3 linked regions of the Homo sapiens genome follow. The protein of the gene in region 1 interacts with the protein of each later gene in a pairwise test. Each region holds a gene or a part of one and is shown in the gene's direction. Other genes may lie near its edges.

Region 1 (7,659 bases):
CAAGTTCACCACCTGATTTTATTCAGTTCACAGCCTCTCTTCCAGCAGCTGCAGTCTTGCCTGATCAGTGCTTTGGAAACCATCATATCCGTGCCTGTTGGGTAGGGGACAATGCCTGTCTGTGTGTGGTAGGGGGACAGGGCATGGGGGATCCATCTACGACACTCCATGAATGACCTTGGGCAGGTCAGGGAAACTTATTTTTCAGTTCTGGGTAACTGAAGCACAATGTCCCAACTCAGCTTCTTGCTTCCGGGGCACGTCAGGGTGAGTGTGCAAGTTGATCTCAGACTCCTGGGGGTGAGTGTGACTACACCACTCTTCTCACTTTGCTCACACCTCAGAGACCACCGTTTGCCATTCTGGGGAGTATTTTTGTGTAGACTGTCTTGTTGGGCAATCAAGGTAGGGAAAAGGAGGGAGTGATAGAGACAGAGAAATATTCACACCGTAATGAGTTTTCCTTAGGGAAAGTGGGGAGGAGAAAGAATGTACACTCTCGAGAGGTCAAGAGAGGAAGCGGATGTGCATGCAGTTACATATTCCTTGAAATAGCTCAGCAAAGATGTTTCCTTTCTGAACAAGAAAGACAAACCGGTTTCAGTGTGTGCTTCCCCCTGAAGATGATAGGTGGGCAGACAGGGGCTGAGTCTGAGGGAGTTTCAGTGAGAACAGCCTCATTGGAGAGGGACATTTATGGGAGTGTGAGCAGGGGTGAAGGGAACGGATGGGCCATCTGCATCTGCCTTAGTGCTCCCAGGCTGGACAGCCCTCCGCCTGCCCATGCACACACATTCCTTAGGGTAGGACTTCCTTTCATCTCTCTACTCCTTCAGGGAGGAAGATATTTCATCATTTCCAGAAGTGATTAGACCTTGCTATCGTGTTTCTGAGTGAGAAATCAGTGTCTGTGGGGGAAACCGTCAGCTCTCTTGTGATTCTAATAGATGAGTACCAAGTCCGACTCAGCTAGCTGGACTCCGTGGAGGAGGAAGAGATGGGCACAGGATTGAAAGGCAGAGCTGGGTGCTGGATGTGGCCAGAGAGCCCCAGGGCAGCCGTGCCTGCCTTTCCCAACCGGAAGCCCAATTCCTACCAGGATCTCCACTTCACTTTTCCCTTCTTCCAAACTGCCCGGGCTAAGGCTCAAGCTGCAGCCATCCACAGATTTTGCTATTTCCTGACTGACTTCCGCACAGCTCCCCTGAGGGGCTTTTTGTTCTGGGAGGGCCGCCAAGGGCATGGGCTGCACCCAGGAAACCGCCTGGGAGCCTGGGTCCTTTTTGACATTCATTTTTGTGCTAGCTGTCTCACATCCAAACCTGTTCCTTCCTCCTCACCCTGAGTTGATTCATTAGTGTCTTGGAGATGAGAATCATTCTGAGGGAGGAACTGTGTGGCTTTTTTTAATGGCTAATTAACAGATGGGTCAGGAAGCTATTAGGATGCTGGAGACGCAGTTGGTGAAATCAGAGCTGCCCTGGGTCCTTCCACTGCCTGCACAGGAGCAGAGGGGATCAAAGAATGTGGGCAGGGTGGGGGGGGTGGATATCTAGGTGGGTGGGAAGAAAAATCCAGGTGGATATCAACAGGAAAAAGTATTAGGAGGTGACCCCTTCATCTTGGGTTGGTTCTCTTGCTTATTTCTAGAAGAAGTCAAGGGAATACTTTGTTCTACTCTTTCTCCCTCCAGAAATTAATTAGAAACTCAAAGAGCTCTGTTATTTCCTCACAGGCCACATAACTGCAGTGGCAGGGCCCCTTCGCTGGCTGATTTAGTGAGTTCTCTTCCTAGGCTCCTGGGCAACAAATTGTCAAGTCACTGCGTTTTTTGAAGCACTGTGAGCTCACTATAATGAATTGATCTAAATAGAGAGTCGACTTATTTTTCTACTTCAAATATAGAAGGAAAGAAACAAAAAAGCATCTTGCCTTGGACTGAAAGTTTTAGCCTTGCCTTTATTTCTTTTTTCTTTGAGTTAAAAAAAAAATGCTTCGCCGGGTGCGGTGGCTCACGCCTGTAATCCCAGCACTTTGGGAGGCCAGAGTGGGTGGATCATTAGGTCAGGAGATTGAGACCATCCTGGCTAACACGGTGAAATCCCGTCTCTACGAAAAACACAAAAAGTTAGCCGGGTGTGGTGGCATGCGCCTGTAGTCCCAGCTACTCGGGAGGCTGAGGCAGGAGAATCCCTTGAACCTGGGAAGCAGAGGTTGTAGTGAGCCAAGATCGCACCACTGCACTCCAACCTGGGGGCCAGAGCGAGACTCAGTCTCAAAAAATAAAAAGAAAAAATAAATGCTTGTAGGGAAAGAGGAAAATTGTGGAAGAACTGGAGAAGTCTTATGGAGGAAGGGCTAGGGGAAGGATGCTGGGAAGGCAGAAAGAAGCAAAAATAGCGAAAGGAGGAAAGCAATCCAGTGAGAGGTTGATTATTCCCACTGAAGGGACAAAGTGACGTTGCCCTGCCTTCATGTGCCACAGGCTTGGTTTGTCCTGACTCTTGCAGACACACGCAGACATTCACTTAACAAATGAGCCCTGCTCACCTTCCCTGGGCAAGATGTGTTTCATACTACACCATATAAGCTTATAAGACACATGTTGCCTTTGATATATGAGGTTAGCAGGGTTCCTTCTTGCTTTAGCAGGGCAACCATGCAAATACTTTTCAAATTCCCTACACTGTGCAATTCTCCTTGGTCACATTGCTCACTGTCTTCATGTCCCTTCCTGCCCCTCCCCAAGCTCAGAAGGCCTTCACACCCATCCCTTTCTCCCCTCTTACCCTACCCGAGGTGGGGAGCACATTCATTTCTGGGAATCGACTGCTAAGGTACCAAGTTTACCCACTGTTCTAGGCTGCCAAGACACAGCTAGAGAAAAAAGCCTAATTCATTGTATTCAACTGGTTTTAATGAGAGATCGGATTGACCGTGCAGTGGATTCAAATCAATTGTGCAGGAAACAGTGGTTAAGACAGCTGAGAAAGTGATCTGATTGAAAGAGGCTAATTCACTAGCTCCAGACGGACAGTCCTACGGATCCGGAATAAAAGGGAACCACAACAAAAGAAGCTTCATGCTTCCAGTTCCATCGCCTGATTTTCCAGGGGCTGGCAGATTGTATTTAGGTCTTCCCTTTCTAGTTCAATTTCTATAGTCTGCAAGAATTCCTACCACATGCTGGAACTGCCACCGTGCTCCTGGCTATGGGAGGTCACCACCCTCCTTCCCTGCTGCCCTCTCCCCATTCAAACACCTGTACCATCCATTTTTGAAATTATGGTGAATTTTGTCTTACAATTTTGCTCATAGCCCTTGATGATATATCACCTCTGGAACCACAAAATGATGGTTTCAATTTACAAGCATGTAAGATGTCTCAGATTGGTTGGTGGTGGTGGGAGGGGTTGTGCTTGGGTGGAATATATGAGGATTTAGACTAAGTACGTTTTGTAGTTTCTGTTGTGATTTTTCCCCTCTTTTCTTTACCTTGGGAAACTCCACCCCATTATTTCTTCCTGAGTTACGTTTATGACCTCACCTCTTTGGCGTCTTTCTTTTTTTTTTTTTTTTTGAGATGGAGTCTTGCTTGGTGGCCCAAGCTGGAGTGCAGTGGCACAATGTCTGCTCACTGCAACTTCCGCCTCCCTGGTTTGAGCTATTCTCCTGCCTCAGCCTCCCAAGTAGCTAGGACTACAGGCGCCCGCCACCACACCTGGCTAATTTTTTGTATTTTTAGTAGAGACAGCGTTTCACCATGTTAGCCAGAATGGTCTCGATCTCCTGACCTCATGCTCTGCCCACCTCTGCCTCCCAAAGTGCTGGGATTACAGGTGTGAGACACGGAGCCTGGCCTCTAGTGTCTTTCTTTGCAGATATTGTAGAGAGATAAGAGGCCTGGGTACAAGGGTTACCAGTGAATCCTCAGAGGGTCTCAGTCCCTTGAACTCAACCCTTGAGCAAGCTTAATTTTAAAACAATTCAGGATACATTGCTAACTCTATTTTTTTTAATCTCTCGAAGTGAAACCAGAACTTCTGAAAAAGCAGGGTAGTACATTCTATTCTTTTGTCATCTATTACAGAATTATAACGTTTTCATTGCAGGCAATTCATTTAATCTCGTTACCTAGTTTTACAAGTGAGGCAACTGAAATTCAGAGAGGCTAGGTCACAGTGCCAAGGAGCCCAGCTAGTGGGTGGGTGAGCTTGGAGGTTAAGCCAGGGCGCCTGTGTTCTAGCGCTCAGACTCATCTCATTCAATGAAAATATATTCTGCTTCTTTACTCTTTGCACGTTCCTTGGTTAGTCATCACCAAATAACTTTGGGATCCTTAGAGATGTGAGTTACAGCCTTCTCCTTTCTCTTTCTTTCCTACGTTTCTGTACCCCTCCTGGTTCACTGTTTCCACTGAATGTCTCCACTAAAATGATTTCTGTCGATCTTCCCCGCTCCTTTTGCAGTTTTTTCACGTTCCTTTCTTAAGGGCAATAACCTAATCTAAGCATAATCCTTTTATAAGGTCTGAGTAATGCGGACTATTGAAGAAGGAAAATAACAGCACAACCAAAGAGTTGTGGACTGGGGCAAAAAGTCACCGAATGAAACTGTGGGCAGAAATCTGTCATTAAAAATTCAGGGCCAGGCACAGTGGCTCACGCCTGTAATCCCAGCACTTTGGGAGGCCGAGGCGGGCAGATCACGAGGTCAGGAGATCGAGACCATCCCGGCTAACACGGTGAAACCTCGTCTCTACTAAAAATACAAAAAATTAGCCGGGCTTGGTGGCGGCGCCTGTAGTCCCAGCTACTTGGGAGACTGAGGCAGGAGAATGGCGTGAACCTGGGAGGTGGAGCTTGCAGTGAGCCGAGATCGCGCCACTGCACTCCAGCCTGGGCAACAGAGCGAGACTCCGTCTCAAAAAAAAAAAAAAAAAAAAAATTCAGACTGTGAATGCTTTCTCTCTCTCTCCCAGAGATGAGTGGAAATGCTGAATGCTGAGACCTACCGGATCAATGCAGTTCAGCTCTGTGAGAGGCCAGAGACCTCCCGCCATCCAGTGGCCGTGTGTGTGTGTGTGCGCGTGCGTGTGTGTGGACGTGTGTGTGCGTGTGTATATGTGTGTGTGATTTCAGGGTTATCTTCTGGGTTGGCCCCCTGCATAGAATATAGCTCTGCAAGCCACGGAAGCTCATTCATAGACGCCAGTTTTGCCCTTTCTCAGCTCTGGGCCCAGATACTGCAGGCTAATCAAGCTGGAAATCTGGGCTTAATCATTATGTGAAAATAACCTCTGTGGCATGCAGTTTGGGGGTTTTCCCTGTAATGTGCTTGATACTTCCTTTGAAAGAACCTGGTTGTACATACCTTAATGTGTCACCCTTCCAAGCAGTCACCTTGGGAGGCCGCATGCTGATTTTTCTGCAGAAAATGTTTCCACGGTCCCTCTCTTGAAAGTACATTGAGAGCCCATGGCATGTCATTTTGACTTTATATAAGGGTAACATATTTTAATTTTCCTAGGGTTGATTTGATTCTTGTAAGCAATGGTAAGTCATGGGGCTGAGTCTGATGAATGAGATAGGTGATCAGAAATCAAGAGTGCCTCCAGTAATGAGACTTGCTCTCCTAGGAGCCGTGTCAGCTGTCTCTGAAGGCAGGAGCCCAGAAGAGGCATTTCAGAAAGGAGTGAATGGCAGCTCTGCACAGGAGTGCCTGGCAATCCACGATGATCATTTTGAAGAGGACACTCCTCATGAGGAACGACAATTATTGGCCTTAAGAAAATCAGTTTTATGCTTTATCCGTGTGTCAGGCAGGTGGTGGAGGTCCTAAGAGAGAGGGAGAAAAAGGAGTTGAGTCTGCAGCAAGCATTTCACATGGAACTGCTCAGAAAGGGTGAAAAAGTGCACGTCCCATATTTCTGCATGAGATAGTAGACAGTTAGCTTAATTTAGCTTCCTAGTTTGATACTGAGGGTAAAAGGACCCAGTTTTACGGGATGTATGCAGTGAGGCTCGGGGTCAGAGCCAGAGTGTTCACTGTGCCTTCCCTTCTTTCTATCCCAGGGCTGTCGCCTCTGTACTTCTGCATTCAGACGGGGTCACCAGCTGGGCCAGACTGCCTTAGATGATGTAGAAATATTTGCAAGCCCAGGAAGATAAGGCTGCCAGTGAGCACTGCTGATCAATTCCTAATGTGCATTTATCACCACTCGCTCCACCCCCAAATGTCCATTCAGTGGATGAATTGATCACCGAAATGGAGCGAGGGTGGGGCAGGCTGAGTGTAAAGGCAGGTGACAAGGGTTACCAGACTCAGTGTCTGCAGGCAGGGAAGCCATGGCTGTGCTACCTGGGTAGAATGGCATTCCTTCATCTCAGTCAGGATTTAGGGGTTGGTAAAGGGCTGGGCATTTGTACTGCCCCCATGCATAGGCCGGGGCAGAGCCTCTGGTCCTGATGACCCTCTAAAGGCCATTGTTGGGCATTCTGGAGGAGTCAGTCTTGCTGTGAGCCTGGGGAGTCCCTCTTAACTCTGCTCACGTGTCAGGACAGTGGGAGCTCTGTGTCCCAGGAGCTTACACAACCCCATCACTCATGCAAGCCCACAAGCCAGAGTTGGAGAGAACTGGAGATCTCGGTGAGATGAAGACTCAAGGAAGTGGAGAGGATGGTAGAGAGATACTCATAAGAGTGCCGGGTCTCGAGGGCTTACTCTGTACCAGCATCCAGCTTGCACCTAACCTGCATTATCTCGCTGCATCCTCCCATCATCCCGTCTGAGTGTAGGGGCCCATGTTGTAGATGAGGAAACCGATTCAGAGAGGCTTAGTAACTTGCCCAAGGTCACACAGCTAGTACATTGCTGGTGCCCTTCTCTCTCTCAAGTCCAGTAGAACAGTTGGGTCTCACCTTCCTGAATGTAATGGAGTCAGTGATACTCAGATTACTTAAGAAAGCAAAGACCTACCTTCCCATGCCCTGGGACTGGTTATCATAGTGAAAGACTGGGAAGATAAGTGACCTACCTATGAGGGCTCTGTGGAACCAGAACGGCGGCCCCCATTTAGATTGCATGCAGGCAGCAAGATCCTCAGGGCAGTGAAAGAGCTCTCTTTCAGGAATATATGATATTGGCTGAGGATAGCAAAGGCAATGCAAAGAAAATATTAAACAAAACAAAACACCCTGATTTTAATTGAGAAAAAAAAAAAACTTGACAATATTGAAAGAACCCCTGGGCAATTCTGCATGAGTCAGTGGAGAGCAGTGACGGGAGCTTGGGTGAGGGGCACAGGAGAGAAAAGAGGCGATTTGGGAGGCGGTATGGACCTAGGGATATTTCTAGTTTTAATTACTGAGATGTAGAGCTCACAAACAGCTCCATTTATCACAACTCTCCCACCCTGCCCCATGTCTAACATCTAGCATCGTGCATGCAAGACACAGCACTTTAGCCAGCTTGCTTCTGCTGTTCCCTGTTCTGGTTTTATTCCTTCCCTGTTTGTACCCTGGTGGCTGTGCTTCGTAATGACTCACGCTTTCCCTGTGATTCTCTGTTTCCGGTTCTCTCAAGTCCCCTGTCCTGAGGGGCACGTGGAAAGGAAGGAATCCTGGGACACTCTTAATAGCCTGTGTTTTACTCTCCAGC
Region 2 (7,768 bases), 5.2 Mb from region 1:
TCACGCAGATTACTTCTTGACCTTTCAGCTAAAATCAAGTGTAGTATCTGTTCTTATCAGTTTGACGTGTCCCTTATCTGAGGATGTAATAAAAATAAAAATAAATAAATGGAATCATGCAGTGTGTGATTTTTGTGACTGACTTCTTTCATTTAACCTAATTTTTCAAGTTTCTTCCATGCTATAGTGTACATCAGTACTTAATTTCTCTTTTTGTGGCCAAATAATATTCCATTAAATGGATATGCCACATTTTATGTATCCATTCGTCATCAGTTAATCATCATTTGGGGTGTTTCTATTTGGTTATTATGAATAATGCTGCTGTAAACATTCATGTACAAGTGTGTATGGACATATGTTTCCATTTCTTTGAGTACATACCTAGGAGTGGAATTGCTGGGTCGTATGGTAACTATGTTTATTTTATTTTTTTTTTTTTGAGACAGAGTCTCACTCTGTTGCCCAGGCTGGAGTGCAGCGGTGGCACTATCTCGGCTCACTGCAAGCTCCGCCTCCCAGGTTTATGCTATTCTCCCGCCTCAGCCTCCCAAGTAGCTGGGACTACAGGCGCCCGCCACCACGCCCGGCTAATTTTTTTTTGTATTTTTAGTAGAAACAGGGTTTCACCATGTTAGCCAGGATGGTCTCGATCTCCTGACCTCGTGATCCACCCGCCTTGGCCTCCCAAAATGTTGGGATTACAGGTGTGAGCCACCGCGCCTGGCCCTTTTTTTTTTTTTTTTTTTTGAGACAGCCTTGCTCTGTTGTCCAGGCTGCAGTGCAATGGCAGGATCTCAGCTCACTGCAACCTCCACCATCCAGGTTCAAGCAATTCTCCTGCCTCAGCCTCCCCAGTAGCTGGGATTATAGGCATGTGCCACCATGCCCTGCTAATTTTTTTTTTTTTTTTTTTTTTTGAGACAGACTCTTGCTCTGTCGCCCAGGCTGGAGTGCAATGGGGCGATCTCAGCTCACTGCAACCTCTGCCTCCCGGGTTCAAGTGATTCTCCTTCCTCAGCCTCTGGAGTAACTGGGATTACAGGCGTCCACCACCATGCCTGGCTAATTTTTGCATTTTTAGTAGAAACAAGGTTTTGCCATGTTGGCCAGGCTGCTCTCGAACTCCTGACCTCAGGTGATGCGCCTGCCTCGGCTGCCCAAAGTGCTGGGATTACAGGCCTGAGCCACCGCACCCGGCCTAATTTTTTCATTTTTGATAGAGGAGGGTTTTCGCCATGTTGGCCAGGCTGGTCTCAAATGCCTGACCTCAGATGATCCACTCACCTCGGCCTCCCAACATGCTGGGATTACAGGAGTGAACCACCGCGCCCAGCTCTCTATGTTTAATCTTTTGAGGAGCAGCCGGACTGTTTTCCAAAGTAGTTGCACCATTTTACAATCTCCCAGGAGTGTAGGACAGGTCCAATTTCTCCACACCCTTGCCAACACTTTGTTGTTACATGTCTTTTTATAATAGCTATGTTAGTAGTGTGAAGTGGGACCACATTGTGCTTTTGATTTGCCTTTCCCTGATGGCTACAATCCAAGGCCTTTTTGTAACCAGAATTTGCAATTAAGGTTATCTGTCTACCCAATTGTCATTTTCACCGGATGTGGTGATGGCTCTGGAGGACTTCAGGTTGTCCACTTTTCACTTTTTTCTCAACAGCACAGCAGTGCCCTCTGCACTATGATTATAAGCCATCCTGTCATTCAAAGCCTTCTTGAGCACCACTTGGATGCCAGGCACTGTGCTGGTTGCTGGGGATACAGCAACAAAGCAAGATCTCACCCCTTGGAAAGTATGGTGGTAAGCCTGTGGCCCTGGACTTGAATCCTTGCTTTCTCACCTCCCAGCCTTGTGGCCTTGGCCTTACCCATGCTCAGTTTTCTTGTCTGTGAAATAAGGTTGCTCTGGGAGTTACATGTTGAGCGCTTAGCACAGTGTCTGGTGCATAGTGAGTGCTCCGTAAGTATTTTTTATTGTTAAAGGTGAAGGCGGGGACAGTGGCTCATGCCTGTAATCTCAGCACTTTGGGAGGCGGAGGTGGCCGGATCACTTGAGGTCAGGAGTTCGAGACCAGCCTGGCCAACATGGTGAAACCCTGTCTCTACTAAAAATACAAAAGTTAGCCGGGTGTCGTGGCGCGTGCCTGTAATCCTAGCTACTGGGGAGGCTGAGGCAGGAGAATCACTTGAATCTGGGAGGTGGAGGTTGCAGTGAGCCAAGATCATGCCACTGCGCTCCAGCCTGGGCAACAGAATGAGACTCCGTCTCAAAAAAAAAAAAAAAGTGAAGCCAGACAATATAATAAATATTACAGTAACGGATAATGAGATGTGGGGGAAGTACAGAGTGTCATGGGAGCACATAGTGGCGATCCCCAGCCCAGTCCAGGGTCTAGGAAAGGCTATCTAAAGGAAGTGATGCTTAAATTGAGAGATGATGGATGAGCAGGAGTTGGCTAGATCAGATCAAGAGCAGTGTGTGTGTGTGTGTGTGTGTGTGTGTGTGTTCCTGGCAGGTGGAACAGAAGAGGCATGGCATACTGGGGAGACTGAAATGTGTTCAGAATGTCTAGAGCAGTGCTGTCTAATAGAACTCTATGTTTATGAAAAATGTCTCAGGCTGGCACGGTGGCTCACGCCTGTAATCCCAGCACTTTGGGAGGCTGAGGTGGGCGGAGCTCCTGAGGTCGGGAGTTTGAGACCAGCCTGACCAACATAGAGAAACCCCGTCTCTACTAAAAATACAAAATTAGCCAGACATGGTGGTGCATGCCTGTAATCACAGCTACTCAGGAGGCTGAGGCAGGAGAATCACTTGAACCTAGGAGGCGGAGGTTGCGGCGAGCTGAGATCGTGCCATTACACTCCAGCCTGGGCAACAAGAATGAAACTCCGTCTCAGAAAAAAAAAAAAAAAAGAAAGAAAAAAAGAAAAATTTGTCATCTGTGTGCTATCCGATATGGTAGCCACTAGCCACATGTGCCAACTGAGCATTTAAAATGTGGCTAATGGGACAGCAGAACTGAATGTTTACTGTTATTTTATTATGTATTTATTTTTGAGACAGAGTTTCCCTCTTGTTGTCCAGGCTGGAGTGCAATGGCACAATCTTGGCTCACTGCAAGCTCTGCCTCCCAGGTTTAAGCGATTCTCCTGCCTCAGCCTCCCAAGTAGCTGGGATTACAGGCACGTGCCACTACGCCTGGCTATTTTTTTTTATTTTTAGGAGAAATGGGGTTTTGCCATATTGGCCAGGCTGGTCTCGAATTCCTCACCTCAAGTGATCCACCTACCTTGGCTTCCCAAAGTGCTGGGATTACAGGTATGAGCCACCGCGCCTGGACTAATTTTGTATTTTTAGTAGAGATGGGGTTTCACTATGTTGGTCAGGCAGGTCTGGAACTCCTGACCTCAGGTGATCCACCCACCTCAGCTTCCCAAAGTGCTGGGATTACAAGCGTGAGGCCTATTATAATTGATTTAAATCTAAACAGTCATTGTGGCTAGTGACTATCTTATTGGATGGCGCAGGCCTAGAGTGTAATGTGCATGACAGGGTTGCCATGAGTGACGGATAGCGATGGAGAAGGGCATCTGGACTTTGAGGGCTCATGGTATGGAGTTTGCATTTTATTCCAAGCACCATGGGTGAGGTTTTGTGATTAAGTCAAGGCGTTAGGTGACCTGGTTTTCTTTTTTTTTCTTTTTTGACACAGAGTCTCGCTCTGTTGTCCAGGCTGGTGTGCAGTGGCACAATCTCAGCTCACTGCAACTTCCGCCTCCCAGGTTCAAGCGATTCTCCTGCGTCAGCCTCCCAAGTAGCTGAGATTACAGGTGCCCACCACCATATCCAGCTAATATTTGTATTTTTAGTAGAGATGGGGTTTTGCCATGTTAGCCAGGCTGGTCTTGAACTCCTGACCTCAAGTGATCCATGCACCTCGGCCTCCCAAAGTGCTGGGATTACAGGTGTGAGCCACTGCGCCCGGCCCTGGTTCCCATTTTTAAAAGGTCACTTCAGTTGCTATAAGGAGAAATGGATTATGAGTGTGGGGCAAGAATGAAGCAGGGAGACCAGTTTGGAGGTGGCTGCAGTTGCCCAGGGGAGCAGTGATAGTGGCTTGGACCACTCAGAAAGACAAATTTTGGAGGAAGAGCTGATGCCAGGTTTTGGGAGTGAGGGAGAGAGATTCCTAGGGCTACTTCGGTGGTGGTTGGGTCCCCAAGCTCCAAGACTGAGTCCAGACCAGGGCCCCGTTGGTGGTGAGGTCTGATTTTAGCAGTGCGTGCCCACCTCCTTGTCTCCACCTGCTGGCTGGTGCTTGGAGCACCTTTAGGGGAACTTTAGCCATCAGAGTCCTGGGGTCAGGAGGCTGGGAGAAGGTCCTGGGAGGTGGGAAAGTCCCCCAACTGCTGGGTGGATGGGTGGGTGGGACTGTGTTCCCAGGGGCATCTGCTGGGCTGAGCCTCTCCCTGGGGGCTGTCCACATCAGCTTTCTCCCCTGCCATGGGTCAACTCAGGCCCATTTATGGGCCACACGGCTGCTTGGAAGGCATGTGGTGGAGAAGGGGAGGAGATAGCTGTCAGTGGACTTGGGGAAGAATCCCCCATCCATGGCAGCTTCCATGGGTGGCAAGTCCCCAGCATCCAAGGGCTGCCTCTGAGTGTCACCCACCCCCACCTGAGACCTTAGTGGCTAGAAGGGGGAGGGGTGGGGGTGGAGCCTGATTCGCAGCAGGGTGTGTCCAGATGGTCAGTCTCTGGTGGCTAGCCTGTCCTGACAGGGGAGAGTTAAGCTCCCGTTCTCCACCGTGCCGGCTGGCCAGGTGGGCTGAGGGTGACCGAGAGACCAGAACCTGCTTGCTGGAGCTTAGTGCTCAGAGCTGGGGAGGGAGGTTCCGCCGCTCCTCTGCTGTCAGCGCCGGCAGCCCCTCCCGGCTTCACTTCCTCCCGCAGCCCCTGCTACTGAGAAGCTCCGGGATCCCAGCAGCCGCCACGCCCTGGCCTCAGCCTGCGGGGTAAGTCGGTGGGCAATGCTGGGGACGTTGGAGGGGGCCGGGTCTCCAAGCCTGACAGTGAATGATGGGGTGGGGAAGGCCTAGTGGGCTCCTGGCTTCTACAGCCTGGAGCCAGGGTCTGTGTGGGGCTCCAGCACCCTCTCCCTGGACCTCCACACCCCTTCCTCTGCTGCCAGGGTGGGTGAGGGTCCCAGGAGGTGGGGTGGGGGCTGGACAGACAACTGTTGCTGCTGGGGCTTGGGAGTCTAGGGCTGGAGGAATGGGCCAGGGTTTGGTTGGGGACACAGATGGGCTAAACGGTATGAAACGGAAAGAGCACCCTTCTGCCCCAGTGTGTGTAGAAAGGGTGGTGGGTCACATCTGCAAACTGAGGCAGCCAGGCAGCTCCCCACCTCCCATGTTTCCATGGGAAAATACCCCACCCGGGTCCCCAGGGCCTGGTCCCAGCCTACCCTCTCCACTTCCCTCTGCTGGTGCCGCTCCTCTCTGCTCTCTGCCCCCTGCCCCCTGCCCCCTTCTCCACCCTTCTGTCTCCTTACCACTCTTTGACTCCTTCTTCTTTCTGATCCTGCTCACTGGGCCCATGAGGGTTCCCCAACCCTGACCGAGGCCCCACCCTTGCCAAGTGATGGAGGCTGTGGTTTCAGTTTTCCTGTGAGGGTGAGATTGTGCTGTTTGCTGAGCTTCCTAGGCCAGCCTAGGGCCTGAGGCAGCGTGGTGGAGAGAGCCTGGGCCACAGGCTAGGGGCCTCCCTCCCTTCGTGAAGCCCCCAGAGGCCCTGAGGCACACAAAGGTAGTATTCGATGCCTTCAGAGCTGAATCAGACTGAAAATATAGACAGACCCTGAAAGGCTTTGAAAACGGAAGAGGAACGTCATGGTAGACGCATGGTGTCAGATCCGGCTCTGCCAACAACTGGCGACCTTGGGAAAGCCACTCCCCCTTTCTAAGCCTTAGTAGTCTTGGCAGCAAAATGAAGGGTTTGATAGTCTAGTGGTTTTCCCAGTTATTTCTTCTTAGAGCTCCCCTTCTTTGGCGAGGGGTTGAGTGACTGGCCCCATCCCAGTCATCGCACTTTTATCTGTTGGAATATTGGCTGCCAGGCAAGACGTTGTGTAAAGAAAGGGTTGTGCTGTTAATGTAAATGGTAACAGGGGTTGTGACCCCTCAGATTCCAGGAAGTCCCAGAGGAAAAGTCGGGGACAGTCATGGCTCTTCCTGGGGGACAACATCAAAAGGGTGGCCCTATTGGTTCCCTGTTCCTCACCCCACAGGCCTCCCTCCCTCTCCTCACCCCTGCTGCTCATCCCTCCTGGCCCACTTCCCCTGCATTGGGGCTGGGCTCCCACACAGTGGGTGGACCTACTTGCACTTGGCATTTTTGCCATTAGAAGTAATGAGAAGTAATGGCAAAAACCGCAATTTTTTTTTTTTTTTTTTTTGAGACAGAGTCTTGCTCTGTTGCCCAGGCTGGAGTGCAGTGGTGCCATCTTAGCTTCCGGGTTTAAGCAATTCTCCTGCCTCACCCTCCCTAGTAGCTGGGATTACAGGCACAAGCCACCATGCCCAGCTAATTTTTGTATTTTTTTTAGTGGAGATGGGGTTTCACCATGTTGGTCAGGCTGGTCTCTAACAGCTGACCAGCCAGCCTCAGCCTCCCAAAGTGCTGGGATTACACCCAGCCACCACGCCCAGCCTTTTGCACTAACCTAATACCTCCTTTTGCAGGCTCCAGTCAGGCCAACACCGACGCGCAGCTGGGAGGAAGACAGGACCCTTGACATCTCCATCTGCACAGAGGTCCTGGCTGGACCGAGCAGCCTCCTCCTCCTAGGATGACCTCACCCTCCAGCTCTCCAGTTTTCAGGTTGGAGACATTAGATGGAGGCCAAGAAGATGGCTCTGAGGCGGACAGAGGAAAGCTGGATTTTGGGAGCGGGCTGCCTCCCATGGAGTCACAGTTCCAGGGCGAGGACCGGAAATTCGCCCCTCAGATAAGAGTCAACCTCAACTACCGAAAGGGAACAGGTGCCAGGTGAGACAGCAAGTGGGGGCAGGGCAAAGGGGGCCCCCTGCCCAGCTCCAGCAGAGCACCCGGAGTGAGACTCATTGACTAGTCCAGCACCAGTGCCCCTTCCCACAGCCTGTGGAGTCCTCAGTCTGGCCCTGGTGGCTCCTGGGCCCGACAGGCTGCCTCTGCTCTGCCATCTGGCATTGCTCTTTCCAGAGGCTTCCCCATTCTTGGCCTTCTGCCTTCTGAGGTCATGTTCTTCATGAGATACATTCTTGAGCTCTAAGTCCTCAACTGACCCTCAAATCCCCCTGTTCATGCCAACTCCCACCCCTGTCATGGTCCCTGTTGGGGAAGGCAGCAGGATCCACACTCCATCCAGTGAGAATCAAGGACATCTGGAAATGTCCCAGGCTCTCCTCAGTTCTGCAAGACTGAGCCTGTCACTCAGGGGACGTGAACTGTGGGATTGGGGATGACAGGCTTCTGCTTGGAGTCATCTGCACTTTGATTTTCCTGTGGTCTTTCCACCAATTCAGACTGTGTGAGCACCACATTCCTGAGAGTCCCACTTCCAGTCCTGCTGCATTTGGCACCCCCTACTTCCCTGCCCGGGGGCGGGGCCTGCCCAGTGAGGCTGGAGAATCCTCATGGGCCAGGCTAGACTCTGCCACAGAAGCCCCTTCTTCCCTTCTCATGCTTGAGGTACAGCCACCAGCTTTGGCC
Region 3 (7,988 bases), on another chromosome or scaffold:
TTGGCTCACTGCAACCTCTGCCTCCAGGGTTCAAGCAATTCTCTTGCCTCAGCCTCCCGAGTAGCTGGGATTACAGGCGCCCGCCACCACGCAGAGCTATTTTTTTTTTTTTTTTGAGACAGAGTTTTGCTCTTGTCACCCAGGCTGGAGTGCAGTGGTGCGATCTCAGCTCACTGCAACCTCTGCCTCCCAGGTTCAAGCAATTCTCCTGCCTTAGCCTGCTGAGTACCCGGGATTACAGGCACCTGCCACCACGCCCGGCTAATTTTTGTATTTTTAGTAGAGACAGGGTTTTGCCATGTTGGCCAGGCTGGTCTCAAATTCCTGAACTCAAATGATCCGCCCGCCTCGGCCTCCCAAAGTGCTGTGATTATAGGTGTGAGCCACTGCACCCAGCCTCATGACTGACTATTTATTTAGAACAAGGAAAAAAAGCGCAACAAATAACTGCAGAAATACAATTTTAACTGGTTTAAGAAAAAGTAAGGACCGGGCACGGTGGCTCATGCCTGTAATCCCAGCACTTTGGGAGGCCAAGGCAGGCAGATCACGAGGTCAGGAGATCAAGACCATCCTGGCTAACACAGTGAAACCCCGTCTCTACTAAAAAAAAAATACAAAAAATTAGCCGGGCATGGTGGCGTGCGCCTGTAGTCCCAGCTGCTGGGGAGGCTGAGGCAGGAGAATGGCGTGAACCTGGGAGGCAGAGGTTGCAGTGAGCCGAGATCGTGCCACTGTACTCCAGCCTGGGTGACAGAGCAAAACTCTGTCTCAAAAAACAAAAAAAAAAAAAAAAAAAAAAAAGAAAGAAAGAAAGAAAAGAAAAAAGAAAAAGTAAGGGAGCCCATAGTTGTACTCCAGTCTGGGCGACAGAGCAAGACTGTCTCAAAAGAATAAAAAATAAAAAGTAAGGGAAAAAAATGCATTGACTCTGGAGGTCTGGTAGTAGGATTGCAGGTATGGCTGGATCCAGCAGCTGATGAAATCAGTTATCTTTCTTTCCTATCTCTTTGCTCTGCTGTCCTCTGTGGTGGTCCAAGTGGGGGGCAAAAGTGGTGTCAAGCTTGTATTCTGCCAGCCAACAAGCCCAGAGAGCTGATCTTAGAACTAACAGCCACTATGATTGGCTGGACATGGGTCATGTATACACCAGGCACTGAGAGTGGAAGAGAGGTTCCCCAAACAGAAACTGAGTGCTGTTATCAGAATCAGGGAAAGTAGTGCTGGCTATCAGGAGCCATGGATGTTCCTTGGATTCTCTTGCAGGACAAAGTCACGTCCTTCCCTTCCCTTCAGAACTTTGTCCCTCTTACTAAAACTTCTATCCTTCATGTGGTAGGGAGAGCAAAGGAACTCATCTCTGAACACCTACTGAGCATCAGGTATTTTTACCCACATTTACCCCACCAGATTCTTGCTATGAAGCCACAAGGGACAAACCTGGGTTGGCAACCCCTCGGTTGCAAGAGGAAACTGAGGCCCAGAGAGAAGTGATTTGCCCAAGGCTGGCAAGTGGCAGAGCTGGAATCACTCCCAGATACTGATGTTACTCACAGCTGTATCTGTGTCCCCATCTGACCCGGCCACCATGGGGGAGCTCCCTTTTCTCTATGCTGCTCCTCTCCCCGCCCTGCCTAGCACAGGGCCCCACACACAGCAGCGCCCAGGAAATAAGCATTGGACTGACCTGACTCCAAGCAGGTAGGGTGGAAGATGGAGGATGGAGGAAGGAGCTGGGAGGCCCAAGGGGCTTCTGAGGCTGTCTGCCAAGCTGACCTCTGACCTTTAAAGCCCATGTTTTCCCTTCTGCCCCCTTTCCCTGGGAATATTCGTCCCTATTCTCACACTGGCTCCTCCCCATCTCAGCTTAACCCTCACCTCCTCAGAGAGGATTTCCCCCCACACCCCACACCCCACACCCACCCCACCCCCTTTTGTCTCAGACCCCTTGTCCATTCCTTCATAGCACCTTTTACTATTGGTTATTGTTATGTTAATTTGCTTTATGGTTTGCTCTACCCAATCTCCCTGTAAGGACTGTGGGGACAAGGACTGATCATGTCTGATTTGATCCCGTCGGCTCCTTGACTCATGCATTGCACACAGTAGGTGCCCGGTCAGTGTCTGCTCAGTCAAAGCTCTCCACTGTGGAGGTGCCACCCCCGCCCCGGCAAGCAGACTTGCCCTCAAACCTCTCTTCCACCCCTTCCCTGCCACTCAGGGTCTCAGCTGCCACCATCCTAATAGAAGATTGAGCCCCTTGCCTGCTGGAGCCATCTAAGGGAGAAGAAAGCCGTTGTGAGCCTGGCAGGGAGGGCGGAGGGCAGCAGAGCCTCTGAGCTGGCAGACAAAGGGCGTGTGTTCTCATCCAGCGCACTTCCTGGGTTTCCGTTGCAGGAAGTTTGGCACCTGCCGATCGGTGACATCGACACCCGAGCTGCTGCGGGCCAGGACGAATCCCTCCATCCGGGAGCAGTGGTGGCGGTGGAACAGGTGGCCTGGGGTGCTGGAGGCAGGTAAGCAGAGGCAGTTGAACCCCTCATTCCCCTTGGACTGTCCCAGAGCAAATGTGGGAAGCCTGGGTCCTAGACTAAGTCAGTGTGACCTTGAACAAGGCCCCAAATCAACTCTTCGTTGCCTCACTATCCCACCTGGGGGTGCAACAGGTGGTTCAGGGGCTGTCATGGAGGTGAGGGCAGGCAGCTCCACTTTTATCTCTTAAATAAACTTCTGGGTCACTAAGCATTTGCAAAGGGGTTCTACAGCCAAAAGCGCCTGAAAACCCCCAGATCGCACCTTCCTCCTTTGAGTCCTTCCCGTCTCTGTCGTTCAGAGGGTATGGGGAAGTCTCCTCCAAAGGGTGCTGCAAAGCTGGAGTTTTGGGGGGCAGGGGCAGGATATCACTGCCAAGCCAGGAATGAGCCGAGCAGGGACTCAGACAGCCTTGAGTCCCAGCCTCGCCCTGCTGCACAGAACTCTCAGCACCTCCAAGCCCCAGCTTCCGATTCTGTAAAGGATGGCACTGGTACCTGTTCTTGAGACTAGCAGAGCTGTGTGCCCAGGGACACAGCGGCTCTGGTTTGAATTTGGCTCTGCCATTTGCCCCTAGTGTGGCCTTGAGCCTCTCGGGGCCTCAGTGTCCTTGACCGTGAACAGGAATCATCAGCCCTGGTGCTCATGGCTCTTGTGGGATTAGGATGGGGATGAGGATGGGTACCAGCACCTAGAAAGCCCCTATCAATGGCAGCTCCTGGGACTGCTGCTGTTACTGCAGCTTGGCTGAGAGGATCAAATGGGAAAAGGGGCGACAAGAGGGATGGGAGGGGCGATGATCAGTGGGTGAGGGCGGAGGCAGCCTCCTCTGACCCTCATAAACCAGCCTCCCTCAGAAACAGCCCCAGAGCCACCCTGGAGGGGTGACTGTAGCTGAGGGGTTGCAGGACGGGCCAGATCCTGTCTGGCCACCCCGCAGATGGCGCTGGGTCCAGCGCTCCTCAAGCCTCAGCCACTGTGGCTTTAATCAAAAGAACAATCTGTCTGCCTCTGAATCAGACCCAGATTCCTTTCCCCACAATGTCCCTGAGGCCTCCAGGGACCCAGGCAGTCCATCCCGGCCCCATCCCGGGCCCCAGAGTCCAGGCTCTGCCTCCCCTCCCGCTCCCGTCCTAATTGCTCCAGCTGGGAGGGGGAGGGTCACTGGATGTGGAGGGAGGGGTTCAGCCACAGGGCCAGCCGGGCCCTGCCTTCCAGAGCTCCTGGAGCGGCCTGTCCCCCGGGACACCGGGACCCACCTGCAGAGGGCTTACCGCTCAGGAGAGCAGAACAAGGTGACCTGCTCCACTGGGGGTCTCCGAGACCCCCACCCTCAGGAACACTCCCGGAAAAAGCCCCCAACCCAGCATATATTAACCACTATTAATCACAGTCCTGGCTGTAACTGTCACCTTTTATCCTCAGGCCAACCTGGAGAGGTAGGCAGTGGCTACCTCCACTTTACAGATGAAGACACTGAGGCTCAGGAGGTGGCGTGACTGCTCCGGGTCTCACGCTTAGTAAACGGCCGCAGAACCCTGGTCGGTTTGACGCAAGACCCTGGCGGATCCCAGAGCCAAAGTAAGCGCTCACCTCCGCCGGACAGGGTAGGTGGGGTTGCCAACCCAGGAGAGCGAGGGAAGGGGGACGGCAGGGACCACTCGGGGTCCATGAAGAACGCGAGGGGATGGGCAGCGGGGAGGGAAGGAAACCCACCCCGACTCCCCATTCTCCTACCCCCACTCCCCATCCCTCCCATTCCCCCATCGCCCCCATCCCCATTCCCCCCCATTCCCACCCCCTGGCCTGTGCCAAGGGGGAGGGGAGGCGTCGTCCAGGGAACAAAGGGAGGGGGAAGGGGCGGCGCGGGGCGCGGCCGGGCAGGTTGGGGGGCAGGTAGGGGCCGCTTCCGCGGGGCGGGAATCCCGCGCCCCCTCCCCCCGAGCCTCACCTTTTATGGTAAAGCGGCGCGGGGCGGCGGGGCGGAGGGAGCCGAGGGGGCGGGGAGGGCGGACGGGCGGAGGGGACGGGAGGCCCAGCGGCTCCGGGCTCCGCTGGCTCGGGCGTCGGATCGGAGCCGCCGGGGCGCGGGCGGCCCAGGTAAGCGGGCCGGGTGGGTGGGGGTCGCGTCCCTCCGTCCCTGTCCCCGGTGCACACAGGTGACAGCGCCGGCAGTGCTCGGCCGGAGCCTGCTCGGTCGCCAGCCGGGACCCCCGGCGCGGCGCCCCTGGAGGGGCCTGCGGGTGGGGGGTGCGGTCCTCACGCCCTTTGCGTCCCAGTCTCTTGGTCTCTCTCCCCGGAGTCGGGGAGTCGGCAGGTCCGGGGCGAGGGCTCAGTGAGGCCGGCGGAGGGCCGAGTCCCAGCCCGGGAGCGGGAGCCGGGGACCCGGCGCGCAGGGCGGAAGCTCCCGCACAAAAGGCCGGAGTCCCGCACATGGATCGAATTAAAGCTCCGGCGGCGCCCAGCGGTGACCCCGGCGGCCGCCCTGCTCGGCTGCCTGCGGAGGGTCCCGCGTTTCCGGAGCCCGGGGGCGCTCCAGGCCCCTTTTCCTAGCCAGGGTCAGGCAAGGGGAGGGACGGGTCCCGGGGCTGCTCCTCTCTGGGCCTCACGCGCCCGTCGGGGGCTGAGAAGGTGTGGAGATGGGCGATACCCAGGTGTGTGCCCTGGGATGATCTTGGCGTCGGCCCCTACCCCTCACCTCCCACCCAAGCCTGAGGACCCCGGGGAGAGGCTGGGGCCGCGCCCAGATTCCTGCTCTTAATGACGCTGTAGGTTCTGTCCGGGTCCTGGAGGCACCCCCAGCCGAGCCCAGCCCCCGGGCTGCTTCTCCCTCTCAGCTGCTGCCTAACCAGCTGTCCTTCTCTTTGCACCTTCCAAGGGCCTAGACCCTGAGTCTTCTTTCCTTATATATCCTCTCAGCCGCCCTAGGGACACACTCATTCTCACTTTATGAAAAAACGAGGCCAGAGAGTTTCTGTGACCTATTCGGGGTCACCCCGCAGGAAAGAAGTGGGGCCGCGTGTGAACCCAGCTCTCTACCTCCTCTGTTTCCCTGGGGTGGGAAAGAGGTTGAGGGAACCCCTCCCCTAAGTTGCAGGGTGGGAGGGGTTGGGGCACACCCCGCCACTTCTGCCTAAATTTAATTCCGTACCCAAAGGTAGACTGCTTTATCCGGTCATTAAAGAACAAAGCTGGCCGGGAGCGGTGGCTCACGCCTGTAATCCCAGCACTTTGGGAGGCCGAGGCGGGCGGATTACCTGAAGTCAGGAGTTGGAGACCAGCCTGGCCAACGTGGTGAAACCCCGTCTCTACTAAAAATACAAAAATTAGCCGGGTGTGGTGGCGCGCGCCTGTAATCCCAGCTATTCGGCGGCTGAGGCACGAGAATCGCTTGAACCCAGGAGGCGGAGGTTGCAGTGAGCCGAGATCGCACCACTGCGCAGCCTGGGCCACAGAATGAGACTCTGTCTCAAAATAAATAAATAAATAACAAAGCTTAAGCCGGGTGTAGTGGCTCAAGCCTGTAATCCCAGCACTCTGGGAGGCCGAGGAGGGCGGATCACTTGAGGTCAGGAGTTTGAGACCAGCCTGGTCAACATGGTGAAACCCTGTCTCTACCAAAAATACAAAAATTAGCCAGGGGTGGTGGCGTGTGCCTGTGGTCCCAGCTACTCAGGAGGCTGAGGCAGGACAATCGCTTGAACCTGGGAGGTGGAGGTTTCAGTGAGCTGAGATTGCGCCACTGCACTCCAGCCTCGGCCACAGAGCAAGATTCTGTCTCAGAAAAAAAAAAAAAAAAAAAAAGAACAGAGCTTAGAGGTGGCCCCAGAGGTTTTTTTGTTTTTTTTTTTCTTTGTAGGGAACAAGGAGTAGGAAGGAGGACTGTGGGGGTGACCCCCCCTGAGCTGCACATTCTCTGCCCCAAGGCTGCAGCCTCTAGCTGGTCTGGGTGGCTGGCTGGATCCCTGCCTCCTTCCTTCCTTTGGACAGGAAATGACTTTCCTTCCCTTTGTTCCCACTTTTCTCCACTTATCTAACTGGATCTGTGATTCGCTCTCTGGGGGAGGAAGAGTGGGGGCGGAGGGTCCCCTGGGCACAGCTGACTGGGAGATGGCCCCAGGGAACTTACACACAGCCTGCTCCCAGCTGAATCGGTGGCAGTGGGACGGGAGGGAAGCCGGGGCTCCCTCTCCCGATGGGATTGACAGGGCTTTGAAACTCCCCAGCTTAGACCCCCTGGGGCCTGAGGTCCCTGCAGTCACTGCTTGGGAGGTATAGGGGCTGCCCAGCTGTGAACATCTGGCCTCAGTGCTGGACATTTTCCGAGAAGCCAGGCAGATCCGACTTCCCGGAGGAGTGTAGGAAGGGTCAGGGCTGGGTGGGAGGAGGCAGAGGGCCATCCCGAAGCCCCACAGCAGCCCCTGGGGACCAGCCCGGAACATGCCGACCACAAGATTTCTGGTCTGGATTGGGCCATTGTAGAGTGAGAACAGGCCTGGGAACTTGGGCGACTTTGTGCCACCCAAGGAAGGAAAAGCGTGTCTGGGGACACACTTTTGGATGATGTTCCATTAGAATTCCGAGTGCCATGGATGGCCTGGGAAAGTCACTTAACCTCTTGGAACCTCACAGGGTCCATCTGCAAAGTGGGGGCAGGATGGGCATTTCTTGCAGCTAGATTGAGAGGCTGGTGGGTTTTGAGGCACATATAGTACCTGGCACAGGGCCTGGCACGAAACAAGTGCCTTATCAGCAAGTCGTTTGGTATTTCTTTAAATCTCACATGTACTCTGAACATTGTTGACAAAAATAGATTCTTAAACTTATAACAAAGTGTAAAACTAAAGCCCGTGACAGCCAGCCTAAGCATACGTACTTCCAGACATCATTTCCAAACCCAGAAGCAAAAGACAAGTACTTTAAAATAAGTTTTGAAGCTCTTTCCTAATATATTGGTTTCTTCCTCAGAATAGATATTTTATTGTCAGACTGAGCTATGTATTTTAGCCAAACAACTTAAGGGAATTTAGGAGCACGTGTTATTGTTTTTATTATCATCCATCAGTCGCTGTGAACCCAAAGTGGCCAGTGCACTTTGAGATAAGGAGGGAAGCCTGAAGAGCGAGATAGAAAAGGGGACATTTTTAGCCCTGGGCACAGGCATTGGGTGCCTGCTGAGGACTGATGTGCTCACTGGACTCCCAGCTTTCCCACCCATGGCCCCACCTCAGCCTTGGCCACAGGGACTACTGTCAGCAGGAACTACCTGAGAGATGGGAAATAATGTCCTTTTCCTGACATCAGGGTATCAGGGTGCCACCATGCTCTCTGATTTATGCTTTTCTTTTTTTTTTTTTCGAGACAGAGTTTCACTCTGTCACCTCGGCTGGAGTGCAGTGGCACAATCTCAGCTCACTGCAACCTCGCCTCCCAGGATTCAAGCGATTCTCCTGCCT

Evidence for each region.
Region 2: the proteins of SHISA6 (region 1) and TRPV2 interact in a protein complementation assay, tested with the Homo sapiens proteins (one study listed by IntAct).
Region 3: the proteins of SHISA6 (region 1) and FBLIM1 interact in binary tests that used the Homo sapiens proteins (3 or more experiments, as listed by UniProt).

Annotation. Positions count from the first base shown.
Region 1 is NC_000017.11:11,244,213-11,251,871, forward strand, and holds part of SHISA6 (protein shisa-6 isoform 1 precursor), read left to right. Parts: intron 1-7,659. UniProt on the Homo sapiens protein: Involved in maintenance of high-frequency synaptic transmission at hippocampal CA3-CA1 synapses.
Region 2 is NC_000017.11:16,410,803-16,418,570, forward strand, and holds the start of TRPV2 (transient receptor potential cation channel subfamily V member 2), read left to right. Parts: upstream 1-4,768; 5' UTR 4,769-5,031; intron 5,032-6,759; 5' UTR 6,760-6,866; coding exon 6,867-7,066; intron 7,067-7,768. UniProt on the Homo sapiens protein: Calcium-permeable, non-selective cation channel with an outward rectification. Seems to be regulated, at least in part, by IGF1, PDGF and neuropeptide head activator. May transduce physical stimuli in mast cells.
Region 3 is NC_000001.11:15,754,217-15,762,204, forward strand, and holds the start of FBLIM1 (filamin-binding LIM protein 1), read left to right. Parts: upstream 1-4,578; 5' UTR 4,579-4,632; intron 4,633-7,988. UniProt on the Homo sapiens protein: Serves as an anchoring site for cell-ECM adhesion proteins and filamin-containing actin filaments. Is implicated in cell shape modulation (spreading) and motility.